7 linked regions of the Homo sapiens genome follow. The gene in region 1 interacts genetically with each later gene. Each region holds a gene or a part of one and is shown in the gene's direction. Other genes may lie near its edges.

Region 1 (3,500 bases):
TTAGCATTGAATGAGACAGCAAATACTTTAAAGTGTTTGAAACAGTGCTTGGCACATGGTAAATGCTGAACAGATAGTAATACATACACACAACAATGCTATAGATTTTTTTCTTGTATTTTTTATAAAAGCATATATTTGTTTTCTAGTCAGAAAAAGGTTAAAGAATAAAGATTGATTAAAAGTAGTATAGGGTGGAATTATGACACTAATTTTCTATTTTATGTTCTCTCTGATGTCTGCATGCTTAAATAAACATTTAAGTAAATTTTAAAATATTTTTATATTTGAGGGTAGTGTGGCAGGAAAGATTCACAGTCAGGCAGTTTATTACTACTGGCAAATTACAAGTTTCACATAAAAAAAGCACATATAGTCATTTCTCCAAAAAACCTACCCACACCACCAATAAGGACATGAAAAGATATTCACCATCTTTACTATTAGGGAAATGCAAAGCAAAACCACAGGGAGTGAGATACCACTTCACACCAAAATACGGACAATAACAAATGTTGGTTAGGATGTGGAGAAACTGAAACTCTTATTTATGGCTGGTAAGAATGTAAAATGGTACAGCCACTGTGGAAAGCAGTTTGGCATTTCCTCAAATAATTAAACATAGAATCACTATATATTAATAAAACTATAGTTAATATATATCATATTCTTGGAGAAAAACATGCATTACCATATATGACCCTGTAATTCTGCTCCTAGGTATATACCCAAGAGAAGTGAAAACACATTCCATACCAAATCTTGTATGAGAACATTAATAGCCATATTATTTATAATAGCCAAAAAATAATACCTCACCTGAGGAATGGAAAACAAAATGTGGCGTATCCATGCAATAGAACATTGGCCATAAAAAAGGAAGGAAATACTGATACATGCTATAACGTGGATGAACCTTGAAAACATGCTGATTGAAAGCAGTCAGATTCAAGGCCACATATTGTATGATTTCATTTATATAACATGTTCAGAATAGGCAAAGCAGGTTAGTGGGTGCCAGAGGCTGGGGAGGAGGGAATGGGATGTAACTTCTAATAGGAATGGGGTTTTGTGGGGGTGGTGAAAACATTAGAAATTAGATAAGAGCAATGGTTGCACAATTCTGTGAATATATTAAAAACCACTGATTTATTTTTTCACTTCAAAAATGATTCTAAAGTACATTAGAGAGAATAAAGCTTAAAGAATAGCTGAGGAATTGTTGGGAAAAACAATAAAGAACACTCTACCATTAGATACTTACATGTTTATTAATAAGACAGAGTAATTAAAATTGTGATGCTATTTCAAAAATAGACTCAGTAATGGAACAGAATATAAAGTCCAGAAACAAATTCCAATACATAATATGTACATATTTCATTAATGATGAATATGGCATTTCACATAATTAGAGAAAGGATTCCCTGTTCAATTTGTGATGCTGGTAAAATTTATTGACTTTTTAGAAAATAGAAAGTTAGGTGGTTTTTTTTTTTTAATCTTAAATACCAAATTGAACTTTAAATGGAATAAAAACCTATATGAAGAAAAGAGACTCACATTATGCTAAGTGAAATAAGCCAAGCGCAGAAGGATAAATATTGCATGGTGTCACTTGTAGGTGGACTCTAAACAAGTTGAACTCATGGAAATAGTAGAATGGTGATTGCAGGAGTAGGGGTTGTGGTGGGGAACAGGGAGTTGCTGGTTAAAGGGTACAAAGTTTCCGTTAGGATGAGTAAGTTCTGGAGGTCTAATGGTAGAACATGGTAATTACTGTTAATAATGTATACCCAAAGATTTCTAAGAGCGTTATCTTAAATGTTCTTACCACAAAAAATAAAATACTTATGTGAGGTGATAGATAAGTTAATTCACTTGATGGTGGTAATCATTTCACAGTGTATACATAAAAACAATATGTCGTACATCGTATATATATATGTGTGTGTATACGTGTGTGTGTGTGTGTGTGTGTGTGTATATACACAATTTTAATTTGTCATTTATACTTCTTCAATAGACCTGAGGGAGAAAAGAAAAAAAAGAATTTTACTTGACTCCCAATCTTTAAAAAAAAAAAAAGAATTTAAAAAATCAGTTGCAGTAATATATCGAAAATAATATTTATAACACATATGACAAATAGAGACTTAATATCTTTAATATGTAAAGACCTCTTACAAACTCGTAAGAAAAATAATGACTATCACAAATAGTAAATTAGATAATTCATAAAAGTAGAGAATTAGGCAAAATAGGCAGTTCATAAATGAAGAAGCAAAGGAAAAGTAATCACACAAGAAAAGATATTTAGGCTTAATGATAATTAAGGAAATGTAAATTAAAATGAAATGTGATTCTTATTAGTGAAGATTAAAGTATTGATGATGAATTTAGGAAATAAGCATTAACATGTACTTCCAATAGGAGTATAAATTATACAGTCTTTCTGCAGGACACTTTATATATCAAGAACTTTATAAAGTTTTTTTCTTTGTTCCAGCAAGTATATTTCTACAAATTTCTCCTAAATAATTAGATATGTACATAGATTTATTTATGAGTGTTACTTATACAAGAGTAGAAACAAACACAGGAATGGTTAAATTCTGTTAATCTTGAGGGTGAAATATTTTACGAGTTAAAAATTATAGAATAATATTTAATGCCATAGGAATGTATTTATAATTGAAGTAGAATAAAATTGGTACAAAAGAATATCCCAGATTTTTCTTAAAAATAAACTCTGTGCATGTGCATACATAGAAAAAAACCTGAAAGATTTGTTTTCTGCCAGAATGTTACAAGTAGTGATCTCTGGCCAACAAAATAATGGATGATTTTTGTTTGCTTTTTTATATTTTCCCATATTATTGGAATTTTCTATATTGATCATTTTGTATCACTTTTATAATCAGAAGAAAACCCAAATACTATTTTTAAAAGTTTAAAGGACCTATGGCATATGTATTTTTAGTAGTCTTTCATTTTTAGCACGTTATCCCTCTTTTTCATAGCCCTGCATTTGCAGTTTTCTTGTAGTTTATTTATTCACTTATTCATGTTTTCATATGGAAGTAGGAAAAGAAAGATATTTAACGTATATCATACGAAGGTCATTTATCCCATCAGTACTGTACATTAAAGCCATATCTTCATATAGTATCTTTAGATCACTTAAAAGTTAACTGGATCACTTAAAAGTAATTGCTGTCTTTTTTAAAAAAATCATTGCCTCTATCTTTATATCTTTTTATTCTAACAAGAGAATACCCTGAAATTCCAGTTAAAGTTTCTAATATGCATCTTTATATCTTAGGGAAAAGAATATAGTGGATTTTCTCTTTAAAAGCCTAAGAATTTTTTTAAGAAATTGATTTTGTTGAAAATATATATATATATTTTTTTTCTTTTTTGAGATGGAGTCTTGTTTTGTCGCCCAGGCTGGAGTATAGTGGAGCAATCTCGGCTCACTGCAACCTATACCTCCCAGG
Region 2 (3,500 bases), on another chromosome or scaffold:
CATACACTTGAATAATTGTTCTTATGGCTGGATGCGTCACTCTTCCTAACTGCTTCTTACTATTTCATCCTCCTTTTAATAGGGGGTTGACCCAGGTCTTGGGCCTTGGGCCTGTTCATTATCCACATTCATTTTTTTGGTGACATCATTCAGGCCCGTGGCTTTAAATATTAATATCATCTACACACTGATGAGTTTATATTTCCAGTTTGGACTTGTCTTCTAAACTCTAGACATTGTATACAACTTCTTACTCCATACTAGTTGGCATCTTCAACATAACAGGTCCAAATTCAAACTTCCGCACACTCCTTCCCACCTCAAAACCACTCTTCCCACAGCCAGCCCCACCTCAATTAAAGGCAGCTCCATCTTCCATTTGTTCAAGGCAGAAATCTCTCAGTCATCCTTGAGTATTTTTTTCTCATACTCCAATCCAATAATGTCAGGAGCTCTACCTTCAGAGTATCGTGTGTGCCACATCTTAGCACCTCCACTGCCACCAGCCCCTCTGCTCATCTCTTCCTTGCAGTAGCCTTCTAACTGGTCTCTGCTGCCAGTCTTGTCTCTGGAGTCTGTTCTCAGATCCGCCACCAGGGAGGCTCTGTCAAGGCATTTAAGTCAAATACTTTTCTCAGAACTCCACAGTGGCTTCTCACGTCACCAGGAATAAAAGCCAAAGATTGTAAAACGGCCACAGGCTTCGTAAGACATGGAGCCTGTGTGACTTGATGTTGGGCCCAACCCTGTTTCTTTTCTGGCTTCATTTCTTGCTCCTTTTCTTTCAGACACTGGTCTTTTCACCATTCCTCAGGCCTGCCAGGCACCATCACTATCCTTGGGTCTTTACCCAAATGTTACTTTATGACCCTCATATGTACAATTGCATCTCAAGTTTGTATTCTCCACATTTCTCTGCTGCTTTCTCTCTTTCCATAATACCATCTGACATAGGTGTATCATTGTCAGCCTTCCTTCCTAGATGGAAGGCAGGGATTTTTGTCTGTTTTGTTTACTGGTATATCTCCAGAATTTAGAATGTCTGCCGCATAGAAAGTCGTCAGTAAACATTTACAGAATTCATTTTATTATGAAAGAAATTTTAATTTTGCTCTTAGGTTCATCTCTAACAAGTATTTAGTGAAACGACAGAGCAGAGACTATGATGTGGAATGGGGCTATGCTTTTGATGTGCATCTCAATGCTTTTTATCCACTCCTGGTCATTTTGCATTTTATCCAGCTTTTTTTCATCAACCGTAAGTAGCAGTTAATTAGAGTATTATCCAAGTCTTCATTGCATGCATTGGTAAAGGGACTCATGGTCTGCGTCTCTTCTGGCAGATGTTATCCTGACAGACACATTTATTGGATATTTAGTTGGAAATACCTTATGGTTGGTTGCAGTTGGCTATTATATCTATGTAACTTTCCTGGGATACAGTGGTAAGTAATTTTTTTAAATGTTTTTGGTTGAGAACATAGCAAGAGGGGGAAAGTTGTAACAGTAGTACAAACAGCTGCTTTTATGGAACACTTACAGGCACTATCCTAAGTATTTTATGTGCATTATCTCATTTAATCTTCATGACAATTACACAGGTTTGTTTCTGTTTTCAAATGAGGAAACTGAGGCAGAGAGATTAAGCAACTTACCCATGGTCATGCAGCTAGAAAATGGCCTAGCTGGTATATAACAGATTTTATACTTTCAAGGAAACATGTTAAACCATACTGGTTATCTCCAGATGACTTGCAGGAATCCAAGACCATTCACTCCTCTTCTCCCATGCTTTCAGGTTGTGGGTTACCAGCAGGAGGGTAGAGCGAAGAAAGGTGGGGCCCAGCATCTTGTTACATAGGTCTATGAACTGAAGTTCTCTAAAGCCTTTTGAATCATAACTTTTTGCCCCATTCTTAGTTTTCATGATTACCGTATGGTTCTGTAGACAATCACAGAAGATCGGGCCCAACATTTATTGTCCTCAGGACATGTTTGCAGATTTACTGTTAAATCCTGTTGTCAGTTCATTTTTCTTAATATGAATGAGGAACATATATTATTTTTCATTTATGTTAAGAAATGATCCCATTAAATAAAGCCAAATAAAATCTAGAGACTGCGCTGTACGTTTCTTACCCCTTCCTTTCCTGTTACTGTAGATGATTAGGGCCTAACTGTAAATACAGATGGCTCTGACTATGCCTGGCTCCGGAGTTATTCCCACCCCGGTTCTCTCCCCCCTTGGCTGGTTTGTCAGGGAACACTTAACCCCTTCATTGTAATGCCTTGTTTGGGGAGTGCTTTCTCTAGTCCAGGGGAGATGTTTGTGTCATTTCTAATGAATTTTGAAAGTGTTTTGTGATGAGAACACTGCAGCACTGTGGTTTCTCTAAGTGGTTATTTGAACACTCCTGGTAACGACCTATACCACTTAGAATAGTTGGAGTACAGCTCAGTTTGTTTAAGAACTTCCTATATGAGAAATACTTAGGTCGGGATGCATGGGGTAGGGTCCCGCTAACTAAGCAGTGAGCAAGAAACATCAATATTTGGAGCCAGACTTTTATATTTAAGAGTTTCAGTTCTTTTCTGAAGCCTGGGCTACTAGTTGAGCTCACACCCTCTTAAAGTGGGGGTATAATGCTTTACACTGGAAAATCTCAAATAGCTAAAAGATGTTTTCCTATAACGCCATCCATCTCTGTACTTTAAGTTGGACTCCTAGAGGTTTCTGAGGCAGTCACAAGTTTAAATTCACCACTGTTTTCATGAATATTTGTGACATTTCTCCCTCATTGTTAACCTCTCTTGGTCCAGTGTATGATGTCCCACTCAGCCTCTGTGCTGAAATAATTCCTCTCCTAGGTTTCTTCCCAGCCCTAGACAAGGAGGAAACAGCACAGAGGGGTTGGGAAGAGTAGTCTAGTTCTGGGCATAAATAGCATCATCTTACTGATTCAAAATATGCATTCCCTTCCACCCCACATGTTGAAGTAAGCTGTCTTTCAAAATGTTCATTTATTAGTCATTTATTTTTTTTTTTTTTTAAATCAGTTTGGATTCCTTTCTTTTCCAGCATTGCCATTTTTGAAAAATACAGTAATTCTTCTGTATCCATTTGCACCTCTGATTCTGCTCTACGGGCTTTCCCTGGCACTGGGATGGAACTTCACCCATACTCTCTGTTCTTTCTATAAGTACAGAGTGAAATAAAAAGTGAGAAGAAGATTCAATCGTAACTGTGTCAACAGTATTGTGAAGTGATCATTTCTTGTAAAACTTGTAAATAAACTATCATCTTTGTAGATATCTTAAAGGTGTAAAGTTTGCAAATTTGAAGAAATATATATTAACACTGTGGTCAGGTACATTCCTTAAAACTAATTAAATGTACATTTCTATAATAAATATTTTTTAAACTAAAGCATGTGTGTTCACTCTAATATTTGCAAATGTAAGAGCTACATGTAAAATGCTAATGGCATGGGGAAAACATA
Region 3 (3,500 bases), on another chromosome or scaffold:
TACTGTTGTCCTTTTGTTCTGGAACTCTCCCTGCTGTCTTCCTGTTTGTTTTCTCCTCTGTAAAATTCTTGTTTTGGTATTCCATGCCTGTTTCTGGCAGTACTCATTTGCTTTTTACCACTTTGGCCTACTGAGAAAGTAAGAGAAAGTTCAGTATAGCCAGGAACTGTCAGAGTTGTTGGAGGATTGACTCATTCTCCTTTGGTTGTAACTTGTTTCTGTTTTTGTTTTTTTGAGAAGGAGTCTCCCTCTGTCGCACAGGCTAAAGTGCAATGGCGCGATCTCGGCTCACTGCAACTCTCGCCTCCCAGGTTCAAGCGATTCTCCTGCCTCAGTCTCCTGAGTAGCTGGGATTACAGGTGTGTGCCACCATGCCCGGCTAATTTTTGTATTTTTAGTAGATACAGGTTTCACCATGTTGGCCAGGCTGGTCTCAAACTGCTGACCTCAAATGATCCACCTGCCTCAGCCTCCCAAAGTGCTGGGATTACAGGCATGAGCCACCACGCCTGGCCAACACTCTATGTAGGATTTTTAAAGAACTAGTTACTTAAAAAATATATCATGAGAGGGAAGACAAATTTATAAATTGAGAGAGGGTTTATAGCTTATGGCTAGCGACACAAGTTTGAAGTCTGACTGCCTGGATTCCAGTCCTGGCCCTTGCCGTTTCCTGCCTGTGCGACCTTGGGCATTTCACTTCATCTTTGTATGTTTCCCTATTTTTTGTTTTTTTTTTTTGAGACAGAGTTTTGCTCTTGTTGCCCAGGCTGGAGTGTAGTGGCGCGCCTGGCTCACCGCAATCTCCGCCTACTGGGTTCAAGCGATTTTCCTGCCTCAGCCTCCTGAGTAGCTGGGATTACAGGTATGTGCCACCACCACGCCTGGCTAATTTTGTATTTTTAGTAGAGACGGGGTTTCTCCATTTTGGTCAGGCTGGTCTCGAACTCCTGACCTCAGGTGATCCACCCGCCTCGGCCTCCCAAAGTGCTGGGATTACAGGTGTGAGCCAACAGTGCCCGGCCTATTTTTTATTTTTATTTTTATTTTTTGAGACAGTGTCTTGCTCTGTTACCCAGGCTGGAATGCAGTGGCATGATCTCAGCTCACTACAACCCCTGCCTCTCGGGTTCGAGTGATTCTTGTGCCTCAGCCTCCCGAGTAGCTGGAATTATAGGCATGCGCCACCACACCTGGCTAATTTTTGTATTTTTAGCAGAGACAGGGTTTCACCATGTTGGCCAGGCTGGTCTCCAACTCTTGACCTCAGATGGTCCGCCCACCTCAGCCTCTCAAAGGCTGGGATTACAGGCCTGAGCCACCACGCCTGGCCCCTATTTTTAAAAATGGAGTTGATAATAGAACATGTTTCGCTTCTAAGAGCTGTTGCAAGGATAGAGTTTAAGTGCTTAGGTTGCTGTCTGGCATGTAGTAGACACTCAAGAAATATTAGTCATAAAAGTACTATTATAAAGACTTTTGGGAAATTGAGGAAGCGAAAATTTTACTAGTAATATCGACTATGACGTTAATCTCCAAGAACTCTGGAGAATATGAATTGCAAGGGCAAGGACTTATTCCTCTGTGGGATTTTCCCCTGTGACTGTTACATTGTTTTTATGTTTTGTTTTGTTGAGATGGAGTCTCCCTCTGTCACCCAGGCTGGAGTGCAGTGGCGGGATCCCAGCTCATTGCAACCTTCACCTCTGCCTCCCGGGTTCAAGTGATTCTCCTGTCTTAGCTTCCCAAGTAGCTGGGACTACAGGCGTGCGCCACCATGCCCAGCTAATTTTTGTATTTTTTAGTAGAGAAGGGGTTTTACTATATGTTGGCCAGGCTGGTCTGGAACCCCTGACCTCAGGTGATCTGCCCATCTCAGCCTCCCAAAGTGCTGGGATTACAGACGTGATCCACCGCGCCTGGCCAGAGCTTGACAGTTGGATTGATGAAACCTGAGAATGTATGCTTTATATGTTGTTCATTTTAATTTGTTATATCTAGAAATTTAGCTCTTACTGTTGACTATAACACATACATGACGTGAGTAGAATTTTATCTAGATTGAGTTTTCAGACCGTAATTGGTTTCAAGAAAATAAATAAGGTATTGGAAGTGAACTAAAATTAGTAACTGGCTTTGGCATTAGACTTTAATGCACTTAAATTACATGATCTCATCTGTGAGATAATTTGACAGAGGAGGACGATGGCATGTATTATGTCCATATGAGGAAAGGGCAGAGAAATAGACCCTGCAAGATTCATTAGTGTTACTCCTTCCTCCTGTTCGTTTTCTTTCTTCGTTTTCCCCCCCGGTAAGCATTAAAAAAAATTTTTTTTGGCTGGGTGTGGTGGCTCACTCCTGTACTCCCAGCACTTTGGGAGGCCATGACTCACTTGAGGTCAGGAGTTTGAGACCAGCCTGGCCAACATGGTGAAACCCCGTCTCTACTAAAAATACAAAAAATTGGCCGGGCACGGTGGCTCACACCTGTAATCCCAGCACTTTGGGAGTCCAAGGCGGGTGGATCACGAGGTCAGGAGATCGAGACCATCATGGCTAACATGGTGAAACCCTGTCTCTACTAAAAATACAAAAAAAAAAAAAAAAAAATTAGCCAGGCGTGATGGCGGGTGCCTGTAGTCCCAGCTACTCAGGAGGCTGAGGCAGGAGAATGGTGTGAAACCGGCAGGCGGAGCTTGCAGTGAGCTGAGATCGCACCACTGCACTCCAGCCTGGGTGACAGTGTGACACTCTGTCTCAAAAAACAAAAACAAATTAGCTAGGCGTGGTGGTGCGCACCTGTAATCCCAGACACTCGGGAGGCTGAGGCAGGAGAATCACTTGAACCCTGGAGGCGGAGGTTGCAGTGAGCCAAGATCACGCCATTCCACTCCAGCCTGGGCCATAGAACAAGACTATGTCTCAAGGAAAACAAACAAACAAAAAAACACATCTCTACTGAAAATACAGAAGTTAGCTGGGAGTGGTGACAGGTGCCTGTAATGCCAGCTGCTTGAGTGGCTGAGGCATGAGAATCACTTGAACCCGGGAGGTGGAGGTTACAGTGTACCGAGATCTTGCCACTGCTCTCCAGCCTAGGCGACAGAGCAAGACACCATCTCAAAAAAAAGAAAATCCTGTAAGATGAATTTGTTCCTTTATGAAGAATAAATTTGTGTCTGCCATTTACACCGTGAATGCCTTTCTTTGGAGTGGTTCCTTGTAGTGTTTTTTGTTGTTGTCGTTGTTGTTAAATTGTGGTAACATATACTTAACACAAAAATTACCATTTTAACCTTTTTTTGTGGGGGGAGGGACGGGATGTCACTCTGTTGCCCAGGCTGGAGTGCAGTGGTATGCTTTTGGCTCACTGTAACCTTCGTGTCCTAGGGTCAAGACATCCTCCCACCTCAGTCTCCCGAGTAGCTGGGACTACAGGTGCATGCCACCACGTCTGGCTTGATTTTTTTATTTTTTGTGGAGATGGGGGTCTCACT
Region 4 (3,500 bases), on another chromosome or scaffold:
ATCAGATCTTTGATATTATCGTTTAAGTTGAAAGGTCATGGTTATTATAATAGTTCCATCACAGGAGATGAGTAGTATAAACTGTGTAATACTACAGATGAATTAACAGGCAGTCGCAGTCGCTACTGTGGGCCTTAGCAGTCTTAGAATTTTAACAGGCATCCGCCCTCTCTACACATTACCTCCGTAATCCATTTATCTGATGGCTAAACCACTCTCAAAACCAGCAGGGAGAGGTTGGAAAGTGATCTCAGAATTAGCTGGAAAATTTTTTCACGTACACATGTCCAGAAACTACTGGCCATCAAACTGTTCCAGCCTCCAGTTTTTGAGACCTCCTCGGGCCTGGACAGACATGTGTATTTTGAAAAAGGTCGTGAGTCTAAACTCCCGCTTCACTCTCCCACTGAGAATGACTTTGAGAGCTTCCTTCCTTGAGGCCATAGCTCTAAGAGGGATAGCAGGTTAACCTTTGATAGGCAATTAGGTGCCAAACTCCAGAACTGTCCTGAGAGCTTGGTGAAAAGGGGAGTGACAGTTTGGTGATTTTGGCAGATCTTTTAGCATGATGTTTTCTGGATTACAGTTTTGTAGGTATTATATAGCTAACCACAGTTTTTATAATTGGCATAACTTACAGGTTAATTAAAACACTCTATCACCTTGATTGAATAAAATTTCTACCAGAAGATTGGTTTTGTAGTAATTTAATCTTTCTCCTAAAATGGTCAGCTGAAAGTTCTACCTTTTTTCCTGGTAGGTCTGTTTTTACCTATACTAGAATATAAACAAAATAGAGACAGAAATTGTCATACTTTCTAGCATTTGTAACTTTCTAGTTATATACTGTTTTTCAGGCTTCTAAGGGACTGAAAAAATGAAACCAAACAATTGCCTTCCAAACAGAAAAAGGTCACTGAATATCCTGTGTCATATATATCTGCTTTGATCTAGATGGCTTACAGAATTTCTAATAAACTGTGAAGAGCTGGCTGTGTCTTTTGTCATTGTTTTATGTTTTGTCCACTCCTTGAGAATAAGGGATATTTCTTTTAAATGTTCTCCTGTGTGTCCCACTCACTGTGGGCACCTACTTCAGAACATCAAGTTATCATTGTCAGTGGGTCTGCTGGAGCTCCCAGGAAACTGACTTGTATGTCAGATCACACTTATTCATGCTTGCGTAGAAGTGAAAGCTTAACTTTTTTCTTAAAACTTTTATGAAATATTTCACATAGCATACGATCTGTCTACAATAGAAAAAGAATATGCAATTCAATGATTTTTGGTATATTCAAAGAGCTGTCCAGTCATCACCATCATCAATTTTAGAACATTTCATCCCAAAAGAAACCCCTGACCCATTAAGTCTAATCATTTGCCTCCCAAACCACCCTTTCCCCCTACAGACAACTACCAATTGGCTTTCTATCTCTATGATTTGTCTACTCTGAAAATTTCGTATAAATGGAAACATGAAAATATGACCCTTTGTGACTGGCTTCTTTCATGTAGCGTAATGTTTCAGGGTTCATCCATGTTGTGACATATGCCAGTGCCTCGCTTCTTTTTACATATAATATTCCACTTTAAATATGCCACATTTTATTTATCCATTCATCAGCTGATGGGCATTTGTGGTTTTCCCACCTTTGATTAATATGCAGAATGCTTCTGTGAACACTCCTATACAAGTTCTTGTGTGGACATGTGTTTTCATGTCTCGTGCGTGCATACCAAGGAGCGGAATTGCTAGGTCATGTGGTTACTCTATACTTAATCTTCTGAGGAACTGCCAGACGGTTCTCCAAAGTGGCAGACATTCCTACCAGCAATTTTTGAGGGTTCCAATGTCTCTACATCCTCACCATTATTTGTTATTGTCTCTTATTGATTATAGCCATCCTAGTGGGTGTGAAGTGATACCTCATTCTGTGGGTCGTCCTTTCACATTCTGGATGGTGTCTTTGTAGCACTGGATTTTTAATTTTGGTGAAGTCCACTTTATCTGTTTTGTTGTTTATACTTTCGGCATGATTTCTAAGAAGGGTTTCCTAGCCTAAGGTCACAAAGATTTACACTGGGTTTCTTCTGATAGTTTCATAAGTTTCTTACATTTAGATCTGTGATCCGTGTTAATTTTTGTGTTAAGGAAAGGATTCAACTTCATTCTTCTGCATGTGGATATCCAGTTGCCCTAGCACCATTTGTTGAACAGACTGTTCTTCCCCCACTGAGTGGTCTTGGCACCCTTGTTGAATAGCAGTTGATCATAAATATGAGGGTATACAATATTTAAATATATTTTAGCTTTGGAGTATGGCTGAAGTCAGAAAGTCTGAGGCCTCTAAATGTGTTACTCTAAGATTGTTTTGGCTGTTCTGAGTGCCTTGCATTTCCTTATGAATTTTACAATCAGCTTGCCAGTTTCCATTAAGGAAAAAAAAAGCAGCTGTGATTTTAATAGAGATTGCATTGAATCCATAGAGCAGAGTTTAGGTTTTGAGATTAAGGCAGTGTGCCTGCAAGGGCATAGGTGTCAGGAAGCATGCCAAGCCACATCCTTACCTCTGTGGGACACGGGCCCTTTCAGGGCAGTGTTTCAAAGTGTCTTTCCTCTTGCAAGACTAAAAGAAAAATTAGTGGTTAGAGAGTAAATACAGATGGCTGGAAAATCATGACACAGTTTGTACTTTTCATAGTGAGATATCTAGTTCCCTGCCCTCACACAGTCATCCTTGACTACAAGTTAATTTTCAGTCAACGAACATTTTGTGGTAGCAAATTTCTTCGGACTGTTTTAGAAACTCTACTCATGACTGGCGGTCACCATGGTGGTATTACGCCAACCCCATCCTACGATGAGCAGGCTGGAGACCCTTAACCTTAGTACTTGTTTATATTTGATAATATAAATTTTCCTGTTGTCACTTTGTCTTTTTCTCATTTTCAGGCGAGACTTGAAATCTGTGCTTTGAGGGACACTGTGGCTGTTTACCTGACACCCGAAAGCAAGTAAGTGGCAGTGTTCTTTAGTTGAGTGCTCTATTAAAAATAAAGGTTGTCTTACTAGTCAATTCTGTCCTCTGTAAAGATGACTGATCAGAGCACATGCTCATGAATTTGTGATGTGATAAAGTTTATGTCAAGGCCACTTTGTAACACAATGTAAATGAAAGGGGTTTAATATAATTTTTTCATTTACTACTGACAAATCTTAGTCTTATAATACAGCAGAGTATGACATACTTCTTAAAGCAAAAGAGGATAAGAACTGAGTCTTAGTCTGTTCATAGCAGACTCTGAAGGACAGCTCAAGTGCTGTAAATATCAGTATAAGAGGAAGCCTTGTGGTTTCTCTGCAAAATTTTGTAGTGGAAATTTGATAATTTTTAGCTGTTTTGAATGAAAGTCAGGATTTCCTACCATTGAAATATCAGTAGGTGAAGTGAAGCAGAACTACTGTTTGTCTGTGCAAAATTGTTTACTACGTGGGCAAC
Region 5 (3,500 bases), on another chromosome or scaffold:
ATTGAAACATTCTGGTATCACATTGAGAGATTCCAGCAAGACCAGCTGACTGCTAGATACTGGTTTTGTAAGCTGTCCAGCAGAATTCCTGCTGTGTCACCAGGGTCTGGTCCCTGACATAGTAACTCTAGAAACTTGGTTACACCTATGCTCTTAGATTGAATCAGATTCTGTGATTGATTTTTCCTAATCAGTTTCATAAGAAGAGTGTTTTATAAACTGGAAAACTAATTTAGTGAGTTGCAGATTATTAAGCCTTTTTTTTTTTTAAGATATATCCTTTTCCTAGTGTTACTTACACTTGGCAAACCAAATGGAAAAACATAGCTTGATAAAAACACAGTAGGAGGAAGGGGAATTGATGTGTATGGGAGAAAAAGACTTGCTAACTATCTTTGCTCTGCAAAATTTTTTTCCAGTGATTAAGTACTCTTCTTCCATTGAACTGTTTCTCATTTGTGACATTTCTGAATAAACCCTGAAAGTTTTTACTTTTGCATTTTTTTTCCTAGTGCCTCAAGCAGTGTTGTATCAATTCATGCTAGTCCTGATTATTTTGATTAGACATGAGTGTTTACCAAGTCTCCTCAAACTACCTTTTAAGGTTATTTTGTACTGAATATGACCTTATTTTGACCTTATCCCTGAACTATTAGGGCAGTTTACTGTGCTATTAGATAAGTGTGTGTCAAGTGTTAATAATAATGCAAAATTAGTAAGTTTTAAAAAACATGCTATTTATTAACTATATAGGCTAACTTTAAAGGAATTTAGCTGAAACAGTCTTGCAATCAAAGAAAAGCTATTTAATATTTTACTTCTGATTTGACTCAAGTGTTTAAAGTGTTTATTGATGGTGATGCAAGAAGTTTTCCTATCTTACGTTTTTATTTAGGTAGTGGAGGTATATGGCCTTCTCGCCTTGGGAATGTCCCTGTGGAATCAACTGGTAGTCCCTGTTCTTTTCATGGTTTTCTGGCTCGTCTTATTTGCTCTTCAGATTTACTCCTATTTCAGTACTCGAGATCAGCCTGCATCACGTGAGAGGCTTCTTTTCCTTTTTCTGACAAGGTAATTAATAAGAGCCTATGATACTATATATAACCTTAGAAAGAGAAAACTTTGATCTAGGAATAGTAAGTTTTGCAGATTACTTTTATCGTTCATGTTACACAACTTCGTATTTTGTTAAGATAGGATTTTCATTCACTGGATACCTAGGTTTGGCAATGCAGGGAGGTGCTAACATAATAATGTGGTTTATTTGGCTGCACTATGGACCAGAGTGTAGCAAATGATTTGTGGAAAGGTACATAGCAAATCGTAAAAGTATTTTTTCAATTTCAAGTTAAAATTATTGGGTCAATCAGAAAAAAGTATATTATAAAAATAACATTTATTGAGTATTTAAAATGTACCATACCATTAAACACTTTGCCTCACATTAATCTTTACAACGACCCTAAGAGATAGGTGCCTTTATTATAATTACCATTTTATAGCTGAAGAAACTGTACCAGGAATAACTTGCCCCAGGTAACACTGCCAAAAGAAGCAGAACTGGCACTCAGACCCACCTGAGTTCGAAGCCTGTGACTTACTCTCTATACTTTGCCTTTGTCCCTGTTGACTTCAGTATCGAGAAAGAGTCCGGTAATTGGTGAAATGGGTAGATAATAGTACTTTACTGTCTAACCCAGGGGTGTTCAATCTTTCGGCTTTCCTGGGCCACATTGGAAGAAGAATTGTCTTGGGCTATACATAAAATACACTAGCACTAACGATAGCTGATGAGCTTTAAAAAAAAACTTGCAAAAAAAAAATCTCATAGTGTTGTAAGAAAGTTTACAAATTTTTGTTGGGCTGCATTCAAAGCTGTCCTGGGCTGCAGGTTAGTCAAGCTTGGACTAACCCAAAATAATTCTAAGACTCGGTTTTTAATATTTAGGGGTTTTTGTTTTGTTTTGTCTTTTTAAATCTCATGTCATTTAAGTCATTTTCCCATTTTATTGTGAGCTTCTGCTAGATCCACATTTGTTATTTTTTCCACTCTTGAGTTTGAATCTCACATTCTCAGAATCTAGTACATGAATATACATCTTGGTTCCCTTGCTCATTGTCACTTTAAAAAGTAGGGATGAAAATCTGTCCTCCTATAAAGTAAATATAGGTAGATAACAGTTTTAAGTTCTAGTTAATAGTCATTGTTTCTCAGCCATCCAATATGATGGAAGACTGTGTACTAAGTGGTGTAGGCTATGAGAAATTTAAGACAAGTTTACTATCCTTAAGGAGCATGTTACTAGGAAAGCATTAACACAAATGTAAATATTAAAAATATACAGGACAAAAACCTGTTTTAAGAAATAAGTGGGATAAACTTATACTGGTACTGAATCAGATTTTGAACTTTCTAAAAATGAATAACAATTATAAGTAGCTTCTATAAACATGCAGTAAGTTGATGTCAAATTCAAATACATTTTAACGATTAATCTAGTATTAAGTAAATTTGACTGCTATTTGTTTTTGATATAAGTATTATGGAGGTTTTATGCAGACTTTTTTTTTTTTGAGACGGAATCTGGCTCCGTCGCCCAGCTGGAGTACAGTGGCACAATCTCGGCTCACTGCAACCTCCGCCTCCCAGGTTCCAGCAATTCTCCTGCCTCAGCCTCCCAAGTAGTTGGGATTACAGGCATGCGCCACCACACCTGGCTAATTTTTATATTATTAGTAGAGACCATGTTGGCCAGGCTCATCTTGAACTCCTGACCTCAGGTGATCCACCCACCTCAGCCTCTCAAAGTCCTGGGATTACAGGTGTGAACCACCACGCCCGGCCTGAAGACTTTTAAAATGACCCAAAAAGTAACTGCATATAGAGAGAAAGAGAGACAGTTCTGTGGTTAGGATAATAAACTCAGCGTGAGACTGAATTGGTGGTGCTTTAAACCAGATTGTTACCCGCTGCAAAGCACAGTAAGATGAGGTATAGCATAGTGCAGTAGGCTTAACAATTTACTAAGCCATGAATGCATTTGGACTTATTTACAAAGTAAGAAAATAATATTCGGATATTCTGTGAAGTTTAGATATCTTGCTAACATAATTTTTTTCTTTTCTTTTTCTATGCCTCGCCAGGATAGATTGCCTTTTTTCATGATAAGAATGTTGTAATTTGCTTTGAGAAGTTCTCATATTGGTTCTTTTGTTAATTTATATCTCTGTAAGAGTTATTCTCTGTTCTTATCCATGCTTTTGTGTGCCTGGTAATGTTTATGTTTCTTTGCCAAAAAAACAACTTATTTAGAAAAAGAGATTGGGAGCTTACCAGAATACCCTGACTAAACAAACACACCAACCAACAATAAAGCACACCAGATCAAACTGCAAATCAAAAAAAAGGTTTTTTTTGCAGCCAGAAAATAGAAATTAAGATTTAATAAAAATGAGTTACTGAATGAAGAGAGAGCAAAGAAAAACTTTATAAATTTTCC
Region 6 (3,500 bases), on another chromosome or scaffold:
ACATGGAATCGAGGCGAGTATGAAAGCAGTTATAGTGGCCATTAGATCGGGCCACCCCAACATTTTTAGGGAGAATAAGTATTGTATCCGTTTGAGGGAATTAACAAAAATGTTTTTCAGTAAGGTAATAATTTTTCTTGAAGCCATTCAGTAGTCTGTTGCCTGAAAGCTGTTAAAATATAGGATTTTATTTAACCTTTTGTCTGTTTTCTAGAATAGTGCAACTTTATTATCCTTGTTAAATCAGAATTTGTCATAAGAACAGTGGAACTCATTATTTTCATATAAATTATTATACTAATTACAAAGCATCTTAATCTTTTCCTTAAAAAGACTCTAGCAATTACTATTTTTCAGGATGCTGGTAACTTCTATAGAACTTGAATTAAAACATTTCCTTAAAAATTCGGACTGTTGTTCTTCCTCTAATTTACTTGAAAATGAGGTTTTATTAATAATGGATGAAATTACTTTCCTAGAAACAATTTTTGCAGGTAAAGCCAAAAGAAAAGGCTATTAGCTGAGGAGCATTATGATGTGAGATCCATTGGGCCAGGATTCACCATGCAGGTTGCAAAGTAGAGGTCTGCCTGCACTCAGGGTGACAGCCTTAGGTAAGAGGCAGGGTGGAAAGGAGAAGATATTGCAGGAACATTGGTGGCATCAAAAACAGATGTAAGAGATGAAAGGGATGGCAGAGCTGCAGGGACAAGAGGTTGTGCCAGAGAGTGTGATGTCATTAATGTTTCTGAAGCGGAGTCATGGTGTATACGTGTTCAAAAAGTGGGATGATGGTAAAGGTCATTTGTGTAGAATTAGTAGAGAAACTGAGGCCACAGCCTTTCTGAGTCATCCTAATGGACATGAAGGCCAGGAGGAAGAAACAAGGTGCTCTAAGCCAGGCTCCAGCTTCTCCACAGGGGACAGTAGTATTAACTGGACAACACGACTTTAAAAGTGAAGAAGTCTAAAGATGGGGGTGGGGGTGTGAGAGATCATGCAGCCTTCACTCCGGAGAGCTTTGTGGGAAATTGGGTTCATGGGAGAGAAATTGGTATTCGTTAAGCCAAAGAAGTAGATTACCTGTTCCGCAAAAAGCTTAACGATATATAGGCATATATTTCCAGTGGGATTTGGAGGTTTGCAGATGACCCAGGAGAAAGGTTATTGGAAGGAGAATGAGAAAGTCAAGAAGGAAATAAAAATATGGGAATGGGTTAATAGGCAAAGAGAGGTGAGGTGAGGAGCTGGCTTTTCATGCCACGCCCTAGGAATCCAGAAAGGTGACGTCCCTGCCTGGGGAAGTCACTAATTTTGAAGGTCAGATTGGGCTTTGGTGAAAGTGTTTTCAGTATCAGAACTTATAAGCCTCTGAGTGTGAGTGAGCTTGATAATGACCTTTACTTCATTGACCCTTACCAACCCCAGGCATGCCAGGATATGCTCTAGGTTTCAAATCCACATTTGATGAGAAGTCATTTAGGTGTCTCTGAACAACCCTCCCCCAAGGGAAGTAGTAAATAATTATCCCTCTGCCTTTCAGCTGTAGTGCAAGAAGCTTGCACTAGGTTAAAAGTTGTGCCTTTCTTTTTCGCCAGCCTCCGCAATGACTGCAAGACCACATAGTGCATCCCTATGACTAGGTCATTCTTCCAGAGAACCAAGCTCATGGGCACCACTGTGATCTCAGTGTTCATTCATTTTTAATAAATAAATTTGCATCATTCTGAGTCAGCTGGTAATAAAAATGAAATTATTATTAGATGCAAAATGAATGCCTAACATAAAAATATCTACTAAAGAAGCTACTAAATATTTTTTCTTAATTAGAGCTTTTCCTTAAGATATGTAAGTATGTAGTTCGGTAATGTGTTAAGGAGGTTCAGAATTATTTAGCTAGTGGGTCCAAAAAGCTGTGGTTGCCTGTGAATCCCCCAACCAAGGGGTGGCTTCTCAGAGGGTGAGGGAGAGATGAACAGGGAAGGCAGCAGAGCCTGTGGAAGCTGCTGCATCTGGAGTCCCCACTGGAGCTCAGGCATCTTGTTGGAGAATGCAGTCAGAAAATGCTCTCCGGGGGCAGGTGGTTCAAAGAATTCCAGGCATTATTTTTCCCTCACAGATAAAGAGTTTAAAATATTTTTCTGCTCTTTTTACATAATGTATTAATGACCGCTTAATGTGTTTCCTTTCTCTAGGCAACCTATTAGGGTTCACTGTAAAAATAAATCTATCCAGAGAGCATTTTGCAATTTCCAGAAGGATTTCACTTGCATGTTTTTATTTTATTCTTTTTTTATTTTGTATTTTATAAAACTATGTTGTTTTTCACATACTCTCACCTAGCAAAGTAAAAAATTAGCAACCCTATTCAATCTGAAAATTTGGGAGAAATTTTGCATGTTCATCAATTTCCAGGAATCTGGAAGTGACTGTGTGTGTGATGGGGCTGGGTGGGACAGTAACCCCAGGGGCTATCAAGAACCATTCAGTAATGTAGGGATCTATGGTCAGATGTTGGGGAAATGTTCTCACAGGGCTTCTCAGCACCTTTTCTTGCTGGTATGCATTGGGAATCTCTAAAGGGAGATTGACAATAGAGTATACAGCATTTAAAACTTGGGCACTGCTTTGGGAGATCATTCATTAGCCAGTTGTTAATTGGAAAAGCGGGTTAGAGAATGTTGTGGGAAAAACTTGAAATGAGTAACTCTTCTGCTTTTAGTTTCACGTTTTCTAAAATGTAACAGCTCTCTTCAACCGAAGGTTAGCATCATTAGGTTTGTTAGATGCCTATGACATGACATAGTTTAAGGAAGTAGTATAATCAACTACATCAGCAGTGTTTAATTTCTTTAACTTTCTATGTTTTTATACCCGGCTACCTTGTTAGTGTAATCACTGCACAAATTTTAAAAGCTTCATGAAGTCAGTAAGATGCAAGTGGCATGTATTGCACTTCATAAGCTTTAAATGTTCCTAGGCCTGATTTCAAGGACAAATAGCACTTATTTTGATATAACTTCCAAAACAATATGGTATCAATTATACTTCAGTTTTTATGTAAACTGACCAGTTTCCAGTTTATGCTACAAATTTCTAATGTTTTTACATTTTCTATTTTTAAAACATTATAAATTTAGCATGTAGTTGTTGAGCGTTTATGTCCATTTTTGTAGTTGGAGGCTTTTTTCCCTTGAGAATTTCAGCATCTTTGTTCTTAAAGACTTCTTTTGACGGTTTTATTTGACAAACATTTAATCTTCACAACACTTCTGTAGGAAATATCATCTTTGTTTTACAGATGAGAAGGTTGTCTCTCAGAAAAGTTAAGTGATTTGCCAGTCTGGGAAGGTGATGAACTGGGTTTGAACACAGATCACAGATCCTCTGACTAAATCTCATGCCTTTTTTAAATCAGTGACTACATTACCTTTTACAGCCACAAGTAATCTCTAAAAAATCTGCTAATTAGAGTGGGGTCTTAGTTTTTTTCATTATGG
Region 7 (3,500 bases), on another chromosome or scaffold:
CTCCAAGGACTACTTTGTTGGGGACCATATTTTCACCTGTCTTCAACTTTTTTTCACCAGCAAATAAAAATGGTAAGTATAAACTGTTAACTGTGATTTGGATTTTTTTTAAAAAAATGCATAGTTTGGGTTTTTTTTTTTTTTTTTTCTTGAGACGAAGTCTCTCTTTGTTGCCCAGGCTGGAGTGCAGTGACGCGATCTCCCCGCTCACTGCAGCCTCTGCCTCCCAGGTTCAAGCAATACTCCTGCCTCAGCCTTACAAGTAGGTGGGACTGTAGGTACCTGCCACCATGCCCGGCTAATATTTTTTGTATTTTTGGTTGAGACGGGGTTTCACCATGTTGACCAGGCTGGTCTCAAACTCTTGACCTTCAAGTGATCCGCCCACCTCGGATTCCCAAAGTGCTGGAATTACAGATGTGAGCAACTGTGCCCAGCAAAAAAATACATAGTTTTTAAAAAGATCTTTTTTATTTTATTAGCATATTTTGTCAATGTCTCGTGTATGTTTTCCACCTCATTAATAATATACAGCTCCTTGGGAGCTGGGTGTGGTGGCTGATGCCGGTAATCTGAACTCTTCGGGAAGCCAAGACAGGAGAATTGCTCAAGGGCAGGAGTTTGAGACTAGCCTGGGCAACATAGTGAGACCCTGTCTCTACAAAAAAATGTAAAAATTATTTGGGCGTGGTAGTGCACGCCTGTAGTCCTAGCTACTCCAGAGGCTGAGGTGGGAGGAATGCTTCAATCCAGCAGTTTGAACCCAGGAGTTTGAGGCTGCAGTGTGCTGTGATTGTACCACTGCACTCAAGCTTGGACAGCCAAGTAGGGGGTCCACGTAAAAAAAAATAAAAAGAATGGAATGGTCCTGTCTTCTGGGTGGCAGGGGTAGTGGCTCACAAAAGGCTTGAAAGAAAAGCCGAATCTGGAAAAGTGGCAAAAGCCATTCCAGGTAGAAGGAGCAGCATGCGTAGAGGCCTTGCAGCAGAAAACAGCATAGTGTATTTGAGAGCTGTTTGTAGTTTGTAATTGATGGAACATTGCATTTGAGAAGGGATAAGGTAGGAGAGCTATGAAGAAGTCATATAATAGAGCTAACATAGTAAGATGATGAACTTTATTCAAGTATGGGATAATTGAAAGTTTGTTTTGTTTTGTTTTTTTCCCCAAGGTGAAAGCAATTTTATTAAGAAAGTAAAGGAATAGGCCGGGCACCGTGGCTTATACCTGTAATCACAGCACTTTAGGAGGCCGAGGCAGGTGGATCATGAGGTCAGGAGTTCAAGACCAGCCTGACTAACATGGTGAAACCATGTCTCTACTAAAGAAAAATACAAAAGTTAGCTGGATGTGGTGGCATGTGCCTGTAATCCCAGCTACTCAAGGCAGGAGAATCACTTGAACCCAGGAGGCGGAGGCTGCAGTGAGCTGAGATCATGCCACTGCACTCCAGCCTGGGTGACAGAGCAAGACTCCGTCTCAAAAAAAAAAAAAAAAGAAAAAGGAATAAAGAATGGCTCCTCCTCCATAGGCAGAGCGGCCTGAAAGGTTTTAAACTGGTGAATAATACGATCAGATCTATGTTTTATAAAGATCACTTGGGCAGTAGTGTGTAGACTAGATTCTGAAGAGGCCATAGGCAGGTAGAACAATTAGTAGACTTGTAGTCGTTTGTGTGAGACTTGATGAGACCTTAATTGTATTAGAGAAGACAGGAAGGATCAGAGGATAGAAAATAGACACATTTTTGGTGCAGATTGGAGGTGAAAGAGAATAGAGATGAAGATGGCACAAGAGTAGAAGATTCAAGGAAAATAAAGTTCCTGGGAGATAGATAATTGAGTGTAATTTGGACCATGCTGAGTTTGAGATGCCATGAAATATTTAAATAAAAATATTCAGGCTGGGCGCGGTGGCTCAACGCCTGTAATCCGAGCACTTTGGGAGGCCGAGATGGGCGGATCACTTGAGGTCAGGAGTTCAAGACCAGCCTGACCAACATGGAGAAACCTATCTCTACTAAAAATACAAAAAAATTTAGCTGGGCATGGTGGCGCACACCCACCTGTAATCCCAGCTACTCAAGAGGCTGAGGCAGGAGAATTGCTTGAACCTGGGAGGCCGAGGTTGCAGTGAGCTGAGATCGCACCATTGCACTCCAGCCTGGGCAACAAGAGTGAAACTCCATCTCAAAAAACAAAACAAAACAAAAAAAACAAACCCCAGTAGTAATATTTTCCCCTCATGCTGAAGTAAAGAATCTCTGAAGGTGTGTATATCTCTGAAGGTGTGTACAGAAATAGATGTCTGGGGAAGAAGGAGTTGAAGTTTGATAGAGTTTTCTTGGAAGGAAGAGATGGTGTCATTAATGATAGTTCTAGTGGAAGGGACTTGGGAAGAATAGTGAAGGTTTACATTGATATTTTCTTTGTGTGTGTCTCTGTCTCTCTCTCCCCACCCCATACACACACAACCTCTCTCTCCACTCCCACATCTGTCTCTTCCCCCCTCCCCCCCACCTACCTCCTCCCCTCCCCCTGCCTTTCCCTGTCTCTGTGTCTCTGTTTTATTTGGATTATGACCAGTCTTTGTAATTGTATTTTTTGTTCCATAGCCTGCAACTAGGGTCTGAGAAGCCTGTTGGTTACGTTGATTCAAGAGGGATTTCTTGATGGATGACAGTGGAGGAATGAGGGATCAAGGATACTGAGGCTGCCAGTTTGACAGTGTATTTAAGTGATACACCACGAAGTCTAACTAGATGAGGAGGGTTGAGAAGAAGTGTTTGAGGGACGTGTTTGGAATTAAACAGACTGGCCTTTATCAAGTTTGAAGATCACATATAATGGGAGTATGAGATATATAATTTGAGGGTTAGGAGGTTGTGCTAAGTGGTTAATACAGTATTAGAATTTTAGGCTTCAGAGGTGAAGTTTCTCAGTGTTAATGTCCAGGTTATAGCTATGGTAGTAACTGATATAGAGCAGTATGAGTGAAGGTGGTTGGAGCTGAAGAGGGCAAGAACTTTGAGGATTAGTCATTGGATGAGTCATTGACATCATCTGTAATAACAACTAGAAAAAATACTGTGTTAAATAGAGCAGTAAACTAGTAGCTATGTATTAAACTTCTTTGCGATTGAGAGGATTCTGGCAGTAGATGGTAGGTGCCAGCAGTGAGGATAAGTGAAGAATTATATAGCCATGTGACATCAGTCTCAAAAGAGCAGACTTTTTTTGCACATTAGTGGAAAACCAGCGATTGGATAGTAGCAATGGAGATAAATGAATTCTGATTCAATTAGTATATTGGTATGGGAGAATAAAGAGCATTGAGGGAAGGGTATCAGAAAAACCTTTTAGGAAAGAGGTTAAACTTAAAGCAACAAGGGAGAAGGAATGTTCTGTAAGGAAGTTGAGAATATTGGAGGTTAATTTTTTTTGTTATTTTTGTTTAAAATGACATTTGGAAGATTCCAGAAGGAAATGGAAAGACCTGGG

What was found.
Region 2: changes in PTAR1 (region 1) and UNC50 are lethal when combined (synthetic lethality), as found in Homo sapiens cells (one study listed by BioGRID).
Region 3: changes in PTAR1 (region 1) and GTF2I are lethal when combined (synthetic lethality), as found in Homo sapiens cells (one study listed by BioGRID).
Region 4: changes in PTAR1 (region 1) and EXOC2 are lethal when combined (synthetic lethality), as found in Homo sapiens cells (one study listed by BioGRID).
Region 5: changes in PTAR1 (region 1) and RNF145 are lethal when combined (synthetic lethality), as found in Homo sapiens cells (one study listed by BioGRID).
Region 6: changes in PTAR1 (region 1) and VPS41 are lethal when combined (synthetic lethality), as found in Homo sapiens cells (one study listed by BioGRID).
Region 7: changes in PTAR1 (region 1) and CTDSPL2 are lethal when combined (synthetic lethality), as found in Homo sapiens cells (one study listed by BioGRID).

The regions. Positions count from the first base shown.
Region 1 is NC_000009.12:69,725,512-69,729,011, reverse strand, and holds part of PTAR1 (protein prenyltransferase alpha subunit repeat-containing protein 1), read left to right. Parts: intron 1-3,500.
Region 2 is NC_000002.12:98,615,089-98,618,588, forward strand, and holds the end of UNC50 (protein unc-50 homolog), read left to right. Parts: intron 1-1,118; coding exon 1,119-1,258; intron 1,259-1,343; coding exon 1,344-1,445; intron 1,446-3,057; coding exon of another isoform or gene 3,058-3,079; coding exon 3,080-3,216; 3' UTR 3,217-3,427; downstream 3,428-3,500. UniProt on the Homo sapiens protein: Involved in the cell surface expression of neuronal nicotinic receptors. Binds RNA.
Region 3 is NC_000007.14:74,664,218-74,667,717, forward strand, and holds part of GTF2I (general transcription factor II-I), read left to right. Parts: intron 1-3,500. UniProt on the Homo sapiens protein: Interacts with the basal transcription machinery by coordinating the formation of a multiprotein complex at the C-FOS promoter, and linking specific signal responsive activator complexes.
Region 4 is NC_000006.12:490,640-494,139, reverse strand, and holds part of EXOC2 (exocyst complex component 2), read left to right. Parts: intron 1-2,953; coding exon 2,954-3,015; intron 3,016-3,500. UniProt on the Homo sapiens protein: Component of the exocyst complex involved in the docking of exocytic vesicles with fusion sites on the plasma membrane.
Region 5 is NC_000005.10:159,171,554-159,175,053, reverse strand, and holds part of RNF145 (RING finger protein 145), read left to right. Parts: intron 1-895; coding exon 896-1,071; intron 1,072-3,500. UniProt on the Homo sapiens protein: E3 ubiquitin ligase that catalyzes the direct transfer of ubiquitin from E2 ubiquitin-conjugating enzyme to a specific substrate.
Region 6 is NC_000007.14:38,738,192-38,741,691, reverse strand, and holds part of VPS41 (vacuolar protein sorting-associated protein 41 homolog), read left to right. Parts: intron 1-3,500. UniProt on the Homo sapiens protein: Plays a role in vesicle-mediated protein trafficking to lysosomal compartments including the endocytic membrane transport and autophagic pathways. Acts as a component of the HOPS endosomal tethering complex.
Region 7 is NC_000015.10:44,486,629-44,490,128, forward strand, and holds part of CTDSPL2 (CTD small phosphatase-like protein 2), read left to right. Parts: coding exon 1-72; intron 73-3,500. UniProt on the Homo sapiens protein: Probable phosphatase.